2 separate regions of the Homo sapiens genome follow, and region 1 is linked to region 2. The links come from fine-mapping of genetic effects on gene expression. Tissue or cell type: whole blood. Region 2 holds a variant in brackets; the other region holds the start of a gene. All regions are shown on one strand. Distances are between the middles of the regions. Region 1 holds the start of PCBP1-AS1 (PCBP1 antisense RNA 1). Region 2 overlaps PCBP1-AS1 (PCBP1 antisense RNA 1).

What was found. PIP is the estimated chance that this variant, and not a neighbour inherited with it, causes the effect.
Region 1: PCBP1-AS1 starts here. The variant in region 2 is fine-mapped to the expression of PCBP1-AS1 in whole blood (TOPMed, PIP above 0.99).

The regions. Positions count from the first base shown.
Region 1 is chr2:70,082,435-70,090,766 of GRCh38, reverse strand. PCBP1-AS1 (PCBP1 antisense RNA 1) reads left to right here and starts at 3,752. Exons shown (of 11, transcript NR_033872.1): 1 at 3,752-3,789; 2 at 5,143-5,220; 3 at 7,080-7,229. PCBP1 (poly(rC) binding protein 1) reads right to left here and starts at 3,290. Exons shown (of 1, transcript NM_006196.4): 1 at 1,564-3,290. The coding sequence starts at 3,023. The coding sequence ends at 1,953. It also overlaps a transcript of ASPRV1 not described here. RefSeq lists silencers at 948-1,037, 1,128-1,177, 3,204-3,263, 3,714-3,863 and enhancers at 1,986-2,152, 2,224-2,868, 4,074-4,283, 4,324-4,413, 4,554-4,693.
Region 2 is chr2:70,064,681-70,073,012 of GRCh38, reverse strand. The region is part of intron 4 of PCBP1-AS1 (PCBP1 antisense RNA 1); the gene reads left to right. It also overlaps a transcript of ASPRV1 not described here. Among named protein-coding and RNA genes, the nearest start is that of PCBP1-AS1, 18 kb to the left of the region's middle. RefSeq lists enhancers at 1,855-1,924, 1,862-2,156, 3,603-3,682. The variant A/G (reference allele first, on the strand shown) is at 3,822.

The DNA of each region.
Region 1 (8,332 bases), 18 kb before region 2:
CTTCACTAGGTCCCCCTCCCTCCCCACCTGTCTTGGCCTCTCAGTCCAACTCATTTAATACACATTGCTTTGTTTCCTACCTTTTAATCATCTGTCTTCTCTGCCCAGATTTTGTGGCCAACCCTCAGCCCCCAGAAATGGGCCTTTTGGCTTTTTATAATCGAGTACACTGAAATTTACTGTGTTCTAAGCACTGTTCTGTTTTATATACATGCTTTCATTTTATTTTCACAAGCCCAGAAGGTGTTAATTTTAACATCTTCATTTATAGAGATTAATTTGTCCAAAGCCATGAATAGGAGGCAGAACTCAAATTTGAAAGCAAGTCTAACTCCAGAATTTGGGCTCCTTTCAGTGACTGCTTGCCTAACCCTGCGTGACCACATAATAAGCCTCAACGAATATTTACTGTGGATAATACTCCCCTCCCACAGGAACTTCTCTTTGCCATGAGTGATCTCCCATAGTGCCTGGGGTTTGAACTACCCACTTTGGCACCTACTGGTCTATTGTCTGATACTATTGTTTCTTCTTTCCCTCATCTCAGGCTCTATTTTCTCATACTATTGTTTCTAATGTTGCCTTTGCCTAGCAGTTTTCCTTCTCTCATCAGGTCAGGGATAGTCCTATTGGCTGACGTGGGCGTGAGGGTGCTACGGCCTTCACAGCGGGATCTTCCTCCTCCACTGAAGACAATCAGTGGCATTCAAATCTAAGACTCCTTTGGGGTGTTTGTTAAAAATACAGCTGATTAGTTTTGGGGTGGGACAGAGGAATCTGCATCTTTAACACTCAGATCATTCTTAGGTTATAGTCAGTGCATCAGTCTACATTCCCGCCTTGTGAAGACTGACCCATTTAGGCAGGATTATTTCCTGGTATAGGGATTCTCTAAACATTGCACACAGCTGAAGAATTGGAAACTGGGCCTCTTTTGTTTCTGGATACACCACTTGGCAGGTGTAATAACATCCTCTGACAGGCTGCTTGCCACAGGTGCATGCTTGACACGTGCGTCTCGTTGGTACCGTCCCCTCCCCCCTTCCCACCCCTGCTGCCCAACCAAGACCCCTCTAGTCCCACCACCACCCGGCAGCTGTTGCCCTCCTCCAAGCCCCCAATCCTCCCCGGCCCACTGCCCTCCCTTCCTTTCCTTTCCCTGCCCCCACACCCCTTCCCCAGGCTCCTCCCACCCCAGAATATTTTTTTGTTCCTAAGTTTATCCTGTGAGGTGGGGGTGGGGGAACTGGTTAGATGGAGAGGACGCTCTGCCATTTAGAGGTCCTACTGAGTGGGCACACCTTTTCCCCTCGAGAAAACCTTGTTTCTACCAGAGAAATGGGCAGAGGCCTCTCTCTGGAACTTGAACCTCTCTGTCCCTGGAAACATCCCAAAGCAGGCCCAGCCTGCCATGTTCCTTTGTTGGGGCACAGAGGGAATGGAATCTTACCGATAAGGTGAGAAGAGCTTGAGAGAATACCAAGGACGGGCCCACCCTTCTCCCTCCTCCCTCCAAACACCTCAGGCTAAAAGGGGAGGGAAAAAAAAGGCACCAACAAAGAGTTTAAGACAGCAATTCCCAGCTTTTTCAAATATGAAGCATTTTTTAACCAATCCGTTTTTTAATTCTTAAATTCTTGACATTACAGAACTAAACTGAAATTTATTAACATTCCACTCTTACATTTCTTATCGACAAACAGAAATAAAATTCATGAGCCAAAAAACCCAAAACAAAACTAAAAACAGGGAAAAGCTTATAAAACTAAATATGGATCCCAGCATTAACAGCTGAACAGAGAATGTGATTTTTAAATTCTTAGCGGATGATAAAGTTGTGTAGAAACTGAACACTTACAAATTATTTAAAACCTGGAATCACTGACCAGAAATTACACAGTTGGATCATGGGAGAACAGCAGAAAGGGGTTATTGAGGGAACCTACACTGTTCTAGCTGCACCCCATGCCCTTCTCAGAGGAAAGCCTGGCATTGATTAGATACTGGGCCAGACTAATACTGGCAGCAGAGCCAGTGATAGTAACCTGCCTACCAGAGGAGCCTTCCACTGGGTTGGCAATTTTGATCTGGGCCCCGGACATCTGGCGGATCTCATTAATGTTGGCGCCTTGGCGCCCGATTATGCAGCCAATTAAGTTATTTGGAATGGTGAGTTCATGGGTGGTTTGAGTAGATGCATCCAAACTTGCCCAATAGCCTTTCACCTCTGGAGAGCTGGAGTCAATTCCGGCGAATCCGGTCCCGCCGTGCATCATGGCAAAGTGAGACTGTTGTCTTGCCACCTGGTTCAGCTTGGCCAGATCGAGCGGAGAAATGGTGTGTTGTCCTTGAATCGAGTAGGCATCTAGAGGTGGTCCCTCCAGGTCATGGGTGGCATGGGGGTAGCCCGCAGCGTCGCTGCACCGATCTTGGCCGCCCGCGCAGATGACTGGGGAGCTGGCCGGCATGGGCTGGTACGGAATGGTCATGACTCTCCCTTGCGGAGACTGGGAGAGCGTCTCCAGCATGACCAGGCAAATCTGCTTGACACACTCGGTGACAGACTGCGGCACGCCAGCGATGGTGATGGCCCGCTCGGTGGAGTTGGGCAGCATATCCCCCGCCACCTGGACCTGCGCCCCCGTACTCTCGCGGATCTCTTTGATCTTACACCCGCCTTTCCCAATCAGGGAGCCGCACTGGGTGGCCGGCACCACCAGCCTCAGGGTGACCGGGGGCCTGCTGGCCGCGGTACTGTTGGTCATGGAGCTGTTGATATCTTCCTCCAGCTTGTCGATGATCATAGCGAAAGCCTTAAAGATGGCATTGGTGGGGCCGGTCAGAGTGATGATTCTCTCCGGACAATTCCCCTCCGAGATGTTGATCCGCGCGCCACTCTCCTCGCGGATCCTCTTAACCGACTCCCCTTTCTTCCCAATGATGCTTCCTACTTCCTTTCCGTGCATAAGAAGCCGAATGGTGAGAGTCACATTTAGTCCACTTTCAGTCACACCGGCATCCATGGCGAGCGGCGGGCGGCGTTCGGGGGAGTTGGGCTCGTTACGTGGTCAAGTCTTTGGCGGCTGGCGGGGGGAGGGGAGGTGTAGGCCCAAAACTGCCGGCGCGAGGCGAGCGAGGGCCGCGGGAGCGAGCGGGAGCGGGCGGGAGGCCGCAGCGTAGTCGCAGGGGCGGGCGGCGGCGGCGGAGGGGGCGAGCGGGGCCGGGAGCGGCGGGCGGGCGGGTGGGCGAGGGCGCGGCGGTGGCGACTCCGGCGGCAGCCTCGGCGGTCTGGGCGGGGCGGGAAGCCCGCTTTCAACCCCGCGTACCCTCTGACCCCGGAAGTGCTTGCTGCGCAGGACCCCTTGAAAAAAAATGAGGACCCGTCTTTTTTAGGTCACAAGATTGCGCCAACCCTTACATGGTCCTTAAAAAAAAAACCTTCTGACACTGCAGTAGTGAAAATGAAGCGCACGATGGGCGGAAGCTGTGAGTCCGGCAAAGTTTTAAAATGATGACGTATTTTATTAACTCTAACGGCACTGGCGGGTGACTGAAAATACTAGTGCTGTGTATGCGGGATAGACATTATTTTCCTGCCCTACATGAGGGGCTCGTGCGCGGAACGACATGGGCAGCCCCGGCGGAAACTGCAGGCACAAGCCGGGACGCCGCGGGTTTAAAACATGCGCGTGAGGTGACCAGAGCGCGTGCGCGAGGGTGTGGGGGGATGGGAGGGGCAGCAGCCCTCTTCCGGGGGGGAGGGGCGGCGAGGCGAGGCCTGCGGAGCGGGTGCGCGCGGGCGGGCACGTGGGGCCCTTTCGTCCCCGGCGTCCGGGCGCCCTGCATGGATCCCCCACCCCAGCTCCTGCTCCCCGGCGGCGGCCGGTGGGCAGAAAGACCGAAACCCACTCACGGCCGCCTGCCGAATCGCGGCTCTGCTGTTTGTGGGGCGTGCTAGAAACGTGGTCCTAAAAAGAATGGCGTCCATTTACATAATGCTTTGTTTGCGTTTCGCAAGTTTCTTTCGGTTAAAGCCACAGAAACCCCACCTCCTGCCCTTGTGTCGTTTCCACCGCGGCACCCTTTTCCGACATTAGAAACAATAGTGTACGCCTGTGGAGGCCTCGTTTGTTCAGGGGCTGCCGGCCAGGGCTTCAGGACGTTTCTGCGGCTTTCCCCGCGCGGCCTGGGCTCCCGCGGCTGCTTTTCGGGCCCATGGGCGCAGCCACTGCGCCAGGCTCAAGGGGGGCGGCCCCGTCAGGGCCCGCCATCTTGGAAGGCCTTTTTTGCCGGTTCTTCCCGCTGAGGAAGTGTCGCTCAAGACGCTGGCCTATGAGTTGTGATTTCTGCCTTTTCCCCTTCCTCCTTGGGCTAAGCCAGACCAGAAAGGGCCCCGTGCGCAACGTGCTTCACAATCTCTCAGGGAAAGCGGCTAACGTGGCGCTACTCCGCCTCCCCTGTTCCTTACCCTTGGGGCGGCCGCCATGTTTCCTGAACACAAAATGGCGACACGTGGTTAGCATTCGTCGCCAACGAGAAATTGGGGTCGGCCCGAAAGCTCTAGAATGCACCCCTCTTCCTCCCCGGGGCCTTCCACCTCCGCGAGTTTTATGACTTAAAAAAGCCCACAGGCTGGTCTGAAGGTCGGAGGCCTAATTTTAACGCGTTTTCCTCCCTTTAATTTGAAACGGGAACGCGAATGACTGTAAAATGTGGGCACAATATTTAATCTCTCGCCTTTTTAAAGCTTAATAGTGGATAATAGGGGGGCAGTATCAAGGGATAATTTGGGTCCCCACAGTACCAAAGCATTTAGAAACCTCTGTTTAATTTAAGGAATGAGATAAGTTACTGCTTTTCTAGACTTCCTAGCATGGGCTGTTGTGCTGGAGAGAACGAGAGCTACGAAGAGACTACAGTGCCTCTGACTTTTTCATAGGACAGTTGGCCGGTGAATCTTATTAATAGTTTACCACAATTAAGTGTTCATTTTTAGTCTAGAAGGGACAGGCGTTTATTGTGCATTGGCCAGTGCCAGCACATCCGATGCAAGGCAGTTCACCGTATTCTATCTTTAATTTTTACCATGGTCCTCTGAGGTAGGTGTTCTTATCTCTCTCTCTCTCTCTCTCTTTTAAACAGAGGAAGACAAACATAAAGATGAAGTGCTTAATTCAAGGTCACACAATGTCGGGGATGGACCTCCAGATTTCCTTACTGGTGAGCACATTTTCCAGGTTTTTCTGTAAATCAGGGTTTTGGAATTTAAATACTATTTAAAACGTTTAGGTGAGCTTGTCATTTAAATGAGCCCTTCAGGTAATCTTTTGTTGTGCAGTCAGCCCCTTTTTGTATCAGGCAGCTCCCAGCTTTTCCTGATAAGAGCTACACCTGTAACGGGCGGGCGGGCTGAAATGCTGTCTTATGCAGTGTCTGGTGAGGATAGGGAGGGGGAAGTGATTCAGCCTGCCCAGAGGCTCAGGTGTCTGTCGGTCTGGCCCTGTCTGTGGCACATTTGAGCCTACCTGCCTCTGGGGGAGCAAATGGTTTTTTGTATGACTGACTTGCTTCCGTCAGCTCCCCATGGGCTTGACTCTTGCCTCCCCCACCCCAGCACCCCAACCAGGTAAAAATAAATTCGCTCTGGCACCAAGCCTCCATTTCTCTGCAGAGATTGACAGAGCATGACAGAGTGTTAGGTCAGTCTGTGGACTCTTCAGTTCAATGCAACACGTAGCTAGTGGGCCAAGCAACAAACTGGTGCCTGAGCAGGGCTCTGATTGTGTGTGGATATGAGAGACAAAGAGAAGGGCTTTTTGCCTTTAACTTATGTTACTATCAGATATATTTTCCAAAGTGGTTTCATGTTAGTTTATATAACTCTACGAACATTTAATAGGTACATAACAGCAACGATGACAGTTACAGCACTAGGTGCTTACTGTGTGCTGGGCATTGTTCTAAGCCTTATTTTATGTATTCAGTGTCTCACATTTTTAAAAAAACCACTAAGAAACAAATTTTACATTATGATTTAAGACATTTATGCACACATATGTAACAAAATTTTTGCAAAACAATATTTGTTACTACATGCAGTATATGTACTTGGGTAATTTCTATTCTTTATATATAAAAAGGACACATTATAAAGTGATTAAAAACCCATTAATAAGTTGTGACCGCTTATACACATTTAATCCTCACAAAACCTCCTGAAATGGGTGGTGATATTAGGTCAGTTTTACAGAGGTACAGATTAGTGAAGGAATTTATCCAAGGTCACACAGCTATTAAGTGGTAAAGCAAGGATTTGAATTTAGGCAATCTGAGTCCAGAGACTCCATTCTTAACCACTAAACTGGATGTGGTCTCTGCAGAGAGTCCTGTCTCATAGGGAGACAGAATAGATGAGGGAATTAAAAATATTACCAAGTGTTAGAAACTCAGGTGACAACAAAAGGACTAAATTGCATATAATCAAGGAATGTTCAAACAAAGCCTTCTTCTGGTCTTTTAAATCTAACTTATTTCTTTTCTCTAGAGAAAATTTTATCTGTCAGGTCTTTCTTTCCAAGACTACCTACTGAAATATTTCCATAATTTCCTGTTATGTACTCCTGGGACTTAGTGCACCTCCTCAGTGAAGCCTTCCCTTTCCCAGCTTCCCCAGCTCTTAGCCTCCCTCCTTCCCCGAGAGTCTTAACAGTTTCTCCCTTCGGTAGCCCACGTTTGGACGTTGGTTAAATTGTAATGTGTCTTGGGGTTGGTAACATGTCATACAGACACCTTGGGTGATGCTGTGGTCTGGCAAAGAGGTCATTGGACCTTGGAATCTGAGGCTCTGGGCCCTAGTCCTAGCTCTGCCCCTGTCTAGCTCTGAGACTTCTACAACTCATCTGTCAGGGTTTCAGTTCTCCCTTTTATAAAGCAAGAGATTAAATGATCTCTAAGGGTCCTTCTACTTATGTCCAGGGACTGATGATATTTGATGACTTTGGTTATTTTTCTTTGGCGGGGTGGGAGGTTTATGTAAATGTTTTCTGCACTTTTGGTAAAATCTCCACTCCCTTCCTCAGACCTGCATTATCTTGTGGATACCTGAGTGAATTCCACACCACCCATTTTATAGATGAAACCACTGAGACATGGAGCAATTGACTGAGTAGTCACTGCCCCACCCCTGCCTGGAGCCTCACACATGACTCGCCTCCTCTCAGTGACCACAGGTTGGTTGAGGGGTTTAACAAGGCTAAGAAGGTGAGTCAGGTTTAGACTTTGGAAGTTGAACCACAGGATTTATGCTACATACAGAGGAATGATTGTTGCTTCCTCTTATGTTAAGTTGGTATGTCACGTAAAACCTTTCAGAGTGCTTTCACGTTACTTGTTTAATCATCACAGACAACTTTGCCAGTAGGGTCTTATGCCCATTTTACAGAAGAGCCATTTTTGGATTAGAGGAGTGAAGTGACTTGCCCAACGTTACACAGCCTGTTAGAATTTGAGCTGAACCTCTTGACTCTTAGTTATGGATTACACCTTTCCATGGCTTCTGATGCTTTTGATATGGACTTTGATGTGTGGGATAGCTTTACCTTAAACTCAAAAGGCTTTCTAGCCAGTTACTATTTTTCTGTCCCCAAACAGCCAATGCATTTACCTTAAGTTCCTAACTCTTGTTTTAGAAAATCTCTTCCCTCTTTTCCCTGATGTTTACATTTATGGGTTTGGAAGGGGTGGGAAGGATTCCTCAATAAGACTCTTATGTTCTCTGGGGGCAGGGACCACATTTATTTTCTGTAACCTACCTGGTTCAGCAAGCATACTATGGTTGTTTAATTTTTTTATTTTTAATTTTTATTTATTTTTTGAGAGAAGGTCTTGCTCTGTCACCCATGCTGGAGTGTAGTGGCTCCATCGTAGCTCACTGCCACCTCTATCCCCCAGGCTCAAGCAATCCTCCCACCTCAGCCTCCTCAGTAACTGGGACTGCAGGTGTGTGCCCACCATGCCGGCTGATTTTTAAGTTAAATTAATTTATGTATTTATTTTTGAGACAGAGTTTCGCGCTTGTTGCCCAGGATGGAGTGCAGTGGCGCGATCCTGGCTCACCACAACCACTGCCTCCCAGGTTCAAGCGATTCTCCTGCCTCAGCCTCTTGAGTAGCTGGGATTACAGGCATGTGCCGCCACACCCGGCTGATTGTGTATTTTTAGTAGAGACGGAGTTTCTCCATGTTGGTCAGGCTGGCCTCGAACTCCTGACCTCAGGTGATCTGCCTGCCCCGGCCTCCCAAAGTTCTGGGATTATAGGTGTGAGCCACCGCAC
Region 2 (8,332 bases):
GCAGCCTCAACCTCCCTGGCACAAGCGATCCTCCCCCTCAGCTTCTCCCTTCTCCGAGTAGCTGGGACTACAGGCACATGCCACCATGCCCGGCTGTTTTTTTTTTTTTTTTTTTTAGTTTTTTATAGAGACAAGGTTTCACTATATTGTTCAGACTGGTCTCGAATTCCTGGGGTCAAGTGATCCTTCTGCCTTGACCTCCTGAAGTGCTGGGATTACAGGCATGAGCCACCATGCCCTGCAAAAAATTATTATTTTTGTTTTTATTTTATTTTATTTCATTTTATTTTTGAGACGAAATCTTGCTCTGTCGCCCAGGACAGAGTGCAGTGGCACAATATTGGCTTACTGCAACCTCTGCCTCCTGAGTTCAAGTGATTCTCCTGCCTCAGCCTCCCCAGTAGCTGGGAGTACAGGCACTCACCATCATGCCTGGCTAATTTTTTTATTTTTAGTAGAGACAGGTTTCATCATGTTGGCTAGGCTGGTCTCAAACTCCTGACCTCAAGTGATCCTCCCGCCTCGGCCTCCCAAAGTGCTGGGATTACAGGCGTGAGCCACTGCGCCCAGCCACCTGGCCTTTTTTTATTTTTAAGAGATAGGGTCTTGCTTTGTCACCCAGGCTAGAGTGCAGTGGTGTGATCATAGCTTACTGTAGCCTTGAACTCCTGGGCTCAAGTGATCCCCCTGCCTCAGTCTTCTGAGTAGCTGGGACTACTGTGTGCCACCACACCAGGCTAATTCTAAAAATTTTCTGTAGAGGCTGGGTGCAGTGGCTCACACCTGTAATCCCAGCACTTTGGGAGGCCGAGGTGGGTGGATCACTTGAGGCCAGGAGTTTGAGACCAGACTGGCCAATGTGGCGAAACCCCATCTCTACTAAAAATACAAAAGTTAGCTGGGCATGGTGGTTCACATCTGTGATCCTACCTACTCGGGAGGCTGAGGCATGAGAATTGCTTGAACCCAGGAGGCAGAGGTAGCAGTGAGCTGAGATCGTGCCACTGCACTCCAGCCTGGGCAATAGAGCGAGACTCTTTCTCATAAAAAAAAAAAAGAAAGAAAAATTTTTGTAGAGACTGGGTCTCGCTATGTTGCCTGGGTTGGTCTTGGACTCCTGACCTCAATCAGTCCTCCCGCCTTGGCCTCCCAAAGTGCTGGGATTACAGGCATGAGCCACTGTGCCCTGCTGAAAATTATTTCTTGTTTTGAATTGAAATCTAATTGAGACTTCTCATTAATTTAATTTTTGTTTTTATTTATTTATATTTGAGACGGAGTCCCACTCTGTCACCCAGGCTGGAGTGCAGTGGCACGATATCGGCTCACTGCAACCTCCACCTCCTGGGTTCAAGTGATTCTTCTGCCTTGGCCTCCTGAGTAGCTGGGATTACAGGTGTGTGCCACTACGCCTGGCTAATTTTTATATTTTTAGTAGAGATGGGGTTTCACCATGTTGGCCAAGCTGGTCTGGAACTCCTGACCTCAGGTGATCCTCCCACCTCAGCCTCCCAAAGTGCTGGGATTACAGGCGTGAGGCACTGTGCCCGGCCTAATTTTAGACCAGTACCCCGGAACTATACAGAATAAATGTAATACATCTTCCACATGCAAACTCATGAACCTTTGAAGACAGTCTTCCTATGTGTAAGACATATTTGCAGTTTATCCTAATACCTAAACTTGCTTTCAGTTCAGATCATTCTGCACAGAAACAATTTCTACTTCTCCCTACTTTGTAAATGCAGTCTGACAAATCTGTGCTTCACTTAGGATTATTTAGTTACAAGGTGAGTATGCTTTCCTTTCCTCCTTGAAGAATGAATTGATGGTGAGCTAAGTCTTTACAATTGTCTGTGAGTTTGGAGGGTTTGCAGTCTCCTACTCTTGTAATCATTAGGAGGTCAGGCTGCTGCCCTGCTGCATACGCCATCAGAGCTCACAAAATGGCTGGAAGTTTATCCGGGCACTTGACAAACTGCATTTACTTCATCAGGCCACTAGGTGATGAACAACTCACAAACCCAGACTGCCAGGGACTGTGGTGTACAGGGCAGTTTCTGTTTATACTTGGAAAGGCCATTCGAAGTCATCTGGTCCAAACTCATTAAAAGGTTTTTGTTGGGGAGGGGAAACATGTTTTTTATATAGTTTGTCTTTCCTGGCTTTGTTACAGTTAAATGTTAATTGCCTGGGACATTTCCTTTTTTTTTTTTTTTTTTTTTTTTTGATACGGAGTCTCACTCTGTCACCCAGGCTGGAGTGCAATGGCACAATCTCGGCTCACTGCAGCCTCCGCCTCCCGGGTTCAAGCGATTCTCCTGCCTCAGCCTCCTACAGGCGTGCGCCACTGTGCCCAGCTAATTTTTGTATTTTATTTTTTTAGTAGAGACAGGATTTTGCACTGTTAGGCTGGTCTCGACCTACTGACCTCATGATCGCCCGCCTTGACCTCCCAAAGTGGTGGGATTACAGGCGTGAGCCACCACTTCCAGCCAAGTAGGACATTTCTTTGAGTGATTTTCTTAGAAGGGGGGCATGAGTGGTACTTTCAAAGTCTTTTTATGTCCAATTTCTTTTTAACCTTCGTGTATGAATGATATTGTGGTTAGGTTTAGAATTCTTGGAATACTAGTCCTAGTCTCGACAAAGTCTAAGTAGCTTTCCAGTGTTTTGAGTTTCTGGTGATACAGATGAGAAGTCCAATGGGATTTTTTTTCCTTGTAAGTAATAATCTGTTCTCTTGTTCTGGAAGTTTGTGAATTTTTATTTATGCTTAGAGTTTCCTGTGGTATGCTTCTGGTATGTCTTTTTTTTTTTTTTTTTTTTTTTTGAGATGGAGTCTTGCTCATGTTACCCAGTCTGGAGTGCAATGGCACGATCCCAGCTCACTGCAACTTCTGCCTCCTGGGTTCAAGCGATTCTTCTGCTTCAGCCTCCCGAGTAGCTGGGATTACAGATGCGTGCCACCACGCCTGGCTCATTTTTGTATTTTTAGTAGAGATGAGGTTTCGCCGTGTTGGCCAGGCTGAGGTGTATGCCTTTTAAAAATAACACTTGTTGGCACTTGATGAGCCTTTTAGACTTAAAAACTTAAAGTCTTTTTTCTGTTCAAGGTTGTTTTATTGCTTCCCTTTCTTTTTTTTTCCAACCTCCTTACTTTATAGAACTCAGAAAGGTGAAGTGACTTGTCCAAGCTCATATAGCTAGTTACAGATGAACCTCAAGCAAATAACCTGACTCCTTTGATGAACTAGACTTTTGTGTATTGAATATTGCTCCATTGAGAGGGCCATTATGAACAACTTAGAAACTTTTTAGTGAGACAGGAATTTTGCCAAGCCTTTGTGGGGAGATGAAGAAGGAAGAAGAGATAAAATTCATTATTTGTGGCCCATTTGAAGGGCTAAAGAATTCGCAAGTTCCCTGGTATCTCAGTTATTGAGCTACCCCGAAGCTCTAAAATGTAATAAAACCAGGAAGTTGCTTGAGCACTTGGAGAATTAGATTTTTAGTAGTCAGGAGTTGGATAAATGTGGTCATGCCCTATTGTAAATATCAAAAACATATAAATGGCATCCGAAGGCTTGGAGACAGACATCATAAACCATGTCTTATCAGTGGTCTGGTTTCTGTTTTGAGTTCCAACCTGGGATGCTTCTGTGGGAACCACCTGTTCCTGGCTCTGTTGATCTTTGGATTTCCCCAGCCCTTCAGTCCCTTTCAGTTTTGAAATGAAACCTACCCCAGAGGGCGAGGTCAGGTTACGAAGAGGACTTTGACAGCTCACCTTGGGTTGTTTTTTTCCCCCAGAGCTGTCT[A/G]GTGTGTGACTGTGTGAGGTGTGAGGCTCAGCAGGCTGTGATACAGATTAATTGATGGTGAATCAGCTGTTGGGTAAGGCCTGGGCTGTGTCATTTTTTGGGTAACCAGGAAAACATGACCAAATACATTGTCTTTCATCTATAGAAAGTTGAAACTTAAGGGTACAATCACCAGAAAGCTGCCCATGATCTCTGCCTTTGGTTTACTGACGAAGGAAAGGCTTTTTTTTTTTTTTTTTTTTTTTGAGACAAGAGTTTTGCTCTTGTTGCCCAGGCTGGAGTGCAATGGCACAATCTCTGCTCACTGCAACCTCCGCCTCCTGGGTTCAAGTGATTCTCCTGCCTCAACCTCCTGAGTAGCTGGGATTATAGGCATGTGCCACCACGACTGGCTAATTTTGTTATTTTTTTTTTTTTTTTAGTAGAGACGCGTTTTCTCCATGTTGGTCAGGCTGGTCTCGAACTCCCGACCTGAGTCAGGTGATCCGCCCGCCTTGGCCTCCCAAAGTGTTGGGATTACAGGCATGAGCCACTGTGCCTGGCTGAAGGAAAGGCTTTAACTTGCCTTCATCTTTCCTCATTTGTAGATCTTCCTTACCTCCTTTCTATTCACATCTCTAGCTTCCTGCTGCTGCTCTAGCTACTAAACCTTTACATAATGTGCCTTTTGGAATTGGTGCTTTGGAAGTGACTCCTCTAGATACCCCTAGAAACCCCCGTTCTCCAGCCAGACTCACAGAATGCAGCTTGCCGCCTCCTTTTTCTGTAAACCTGGTTTCCATAAGATTGCAGCACTTCATTTGGAATCTTTACAAGTGAAACTAGCTCTTTCTTCAACCCACTCCTTACCACTTCACCCCTGACTTTGCCTGACTGTACTTCAGCCCCATTCCTCAGCACTCCAGAGCTGCCTCCAAATGGCCAGATACTTTCAGATACCTTTTGCTCTTTGAAATTTCTGCTGGCCAGGAGGCCAGCAAGGCCACTTGATCACTGTCCTTGAAGCTGGCATCTATACCCATTTCCCCTGTGTGTGTTGCGATTTTGGTGTCTGATCTCTCCTCCTGGGGCTATAGCCCAGGCTCAGAGATTGGTGACCAGGGCTTGCCTGGAGCCAAGGATTTGGGATAGAGTGTGGACTTAGGGGGCTTGGTGTTAACATTTCAGAGGTAGACAGATGAGAAGCCAGAATACGTGAACCTCAAGGCCAGTGGAGGATGGGAAGGACAGAGAGAATTTAGTATCTGAAGCAAAAGATGACCTTTGTAAGCTTCTCCTCCTGCCCAATCTTTTTGAAAAATTATTTAATTTACAGAGAATATAATAAATGATATTTTTAAAATACCAAAACATTGTAGATCATATTTTGGCTATTCCTGTCTCCCCATTTCAGTTATTTCTGTATTCACTAGAGGTAATGTATTGGTGATTTGGAATGTACCTGCCATACTTCTTCCTGTGTGTTTATTTACACATGTATGAACCCAGAAAAAATTTAAAGTATTATTTTTTGTTTTATTTAATTCTCTATACAAGTGATATAACATCTTATGTATCATTCTGGTATTTTCTTCTATGATTTAATAACATGCTTTGACAGTATTCCATGTTAGTACAAACAGGCATATCTCATTCTTTTTGGTGCTGGATAGTATTTCATAGAATGGATATGCTGTATTTTATTTGGCTATTTTTCTATGAAGACATTAAGGTATTTCCAGTTTTTGGGTGATCTCAACCTCTTTGGCAGCTTCAGTTACCATCTACACGTGGATGATTCCCAAATCTCCAGCCCAGATCTCTAGACCAGATTATCCAATTGCTTACAACCCCACTGGGATGTCTTGCAGCCCCCTGCTTTTTCTCACTTGCTCCTTCTCCAGTGCCCAATCATATACATTATAGACAGTATGCAGCGGCTAAAGCCCCAAACCCAGTAATGATTAATCATTCCTTCCTTCCCTTCCCACGTCTGACAACCAGTCACTAGGACTTGTCCTCCCTACCTCCTCAGTATTTCTTGAATCTAATCATTTTCCCTCTCCATTGCTACTGCCCTGTACGTTAGTTTTTAAATTTATAAAAGAGTACTTCTGAGGATTAAGTGAATTAATATATATAAGATGCTTAGAATAATAGATTGGTACCTACTAATTGCTATGTGAATCTTAGTTGTTATTATCATCATCTTAGTTTATATAATCCATTATCATCACTGCTTCCAGTCTTAATTTTATTCACCCCTACCTCCATTCCAGTCTCCACACTACAGCCAGAGTGATCTTCATAAAATGGAAGAATGGGCCAGGCGTGGTGGCTCATGCCTGTAATCCCAGCAATTTGGGAGGCCGAGGTGGGAGGATCGCTTGAGCCCAGGAGTTCAAGGCAACATAGTGAGACCATGTCTCTACAAAAAATAACAAATTAGCCAAGTGTGGTGCTGGTGAACATCTGTGGTCCCAGATACTTGGGAGGCTGAAGTGGGAGGATCATTTGAGCTTGGGAGGTTGAAGCTGCAACGAACTGTAATGATGCCACTGCACTCCAGCCTTGGTGACAGAGGGAGACCTTGTCTCAAAAAAAAAATAAAGTAAAATGTAAGAATGATTGCTTAAATGATAATTCTCCTGCTTAAAAAGATGTCAGTGAGGCCAGGCGCAGTGGCTCATGCCTATAATCCCAGCACTTTAGGAGGGAGGCCAAGGCAGGTGGATCATCTGAGGTCAGGAGTTCGAGACCAGCCTGGCCAACATGGTGAAACCCCATCTCTACTAAAAATACAAAAATTAGCTGGGCGTGGTGGCAGGCACCTGTAATCCCAGCTACTCGGGAGGCTGAGGTAGGAGAATCACTTGAACCTGGGAGGTGGAGGTTGCAGTGAGCTGAGATTGCGCCATTGTACTCCAGCCTGGGCAACAAGAGCGAAACTCCATCTCAAAAAAAAAAAATGATGTTAGTGATGTTTCCATTGAACTGCTTTGTGTTTTGGAGACAGAGTCTCTGTCTCCTGGGCTTGAGTGCAATAGCATGATTTCGGCTCATGCAACCTCTGCCTCCCAGTTTCAAGCGATTGTCCTGCCTCAGCCTCCCAAAGTGCTGGGATTATGGGTGTGCACCACCATGCCCAGCTAATTTTTGTTATTTTTAGTAGAGATGGGGTTTCACCATGTTGGTTAGGCTGGTCTCGACCTCCTGGCCTCAAGTGATCTTCCCACCTCAGCCTCCTGAAATTCTGAGAGTACAGGCGTGAGCCACTGCACCCAGCCTCCATTGAGCTTTTAATGACTTCATTTTATTGAGATACCTGATTTTTCTTTTCTTTCCTTCCTTCCTTTTCTTTTTCTTTCTTTTTTTTTTTTTTTTTTTTTTTTTGAGTCAAAAGCCTCGTTCTGTCACCCAGGCTGTAGTGCAGTGGTGTGATCATAACTGACTGTACCGCTCTGGGCTCAAGGGATCTTCCTGCCTCAGCCTCCCCAGTAGCTGGGACTAAAGGCATGCGCCACCACACCTGGCTAATTTTTAAAAAAATTTTTTGTAGAAACGAGGTCTCACAGCTGGTCTCTGTGCCACTGCACCCTGCCCCTGCTTTTAAATGCTATCTCTTCAGACAGGTCTTCCCTTGACTATCTAATGATTCTAAAGTATCTACCCATATGCTTTTATTAACATCACCTGATTTTAATTCTGTGATCGCACTTATCAATATATTATAATTTTCTGGTTTATTTACATATTTGTTTATAGTCTTCTCCAATTAAAAGAGAACAGGAATATTGTCTTTTTTTTTTTTTTTTTTTTTTTGAGATGGTGTCTTGCACTGTTACCCAGGCTGGAGTGTAGTAGCGCCATCTCGGCTCATTGCAAGCTCCGCCTCCTGGGTTCATGCCATTCTTCTGCCTCAGCCTCCTGAGTAGCTGGGACTACAGGCGCTAATTTTTTGTACTTTTAGTAGAGACGGGATTTCACCGTGTTAGCCAGGATGATCTCGATCTCCTGACCTCATGATCCACCCGCCTCAACCTCCCAAAGTGCTGGGATTACAGGCATGAGCCACCCACCGCACCTGGCCTTTTTTTTGTTTTGTTTTGTTTTGTTTTGAGATGGAGTCTGGCTCTGTTGCCCAGGCTGGAGTGCAGTGGTTCGATCTCGGCTTACTGCAATGTCTGTCTCCTGGGTTCAAGCGATTCTTGTGCCTCAGCCTCCTCAGTAGCTGGGATTAGAGACGTGTGCCACCATGCCTGGCTTAAGTTTTGTATTTTTAGTAGGAACAAGGTTTCACCATGTTAGCCAGGCTGGTCTTGAGCTCCTGACCTCAAACGTTCCGCCTGCCTTGGCCTCCCAAAGTGCTGGGATTACAGGTGTGAGCCACTGTGCCTGGCTGATATTGTTTGTTTTATTCATTGTTGTATTCCTAGCACCTAGGACAATGTCTGACACATTATTGACAATACTTGTGAAGTGAATAGTAAAACAACTTTCTTTGTCCTATTAGGCCCTTTTGGCCTCTCCAG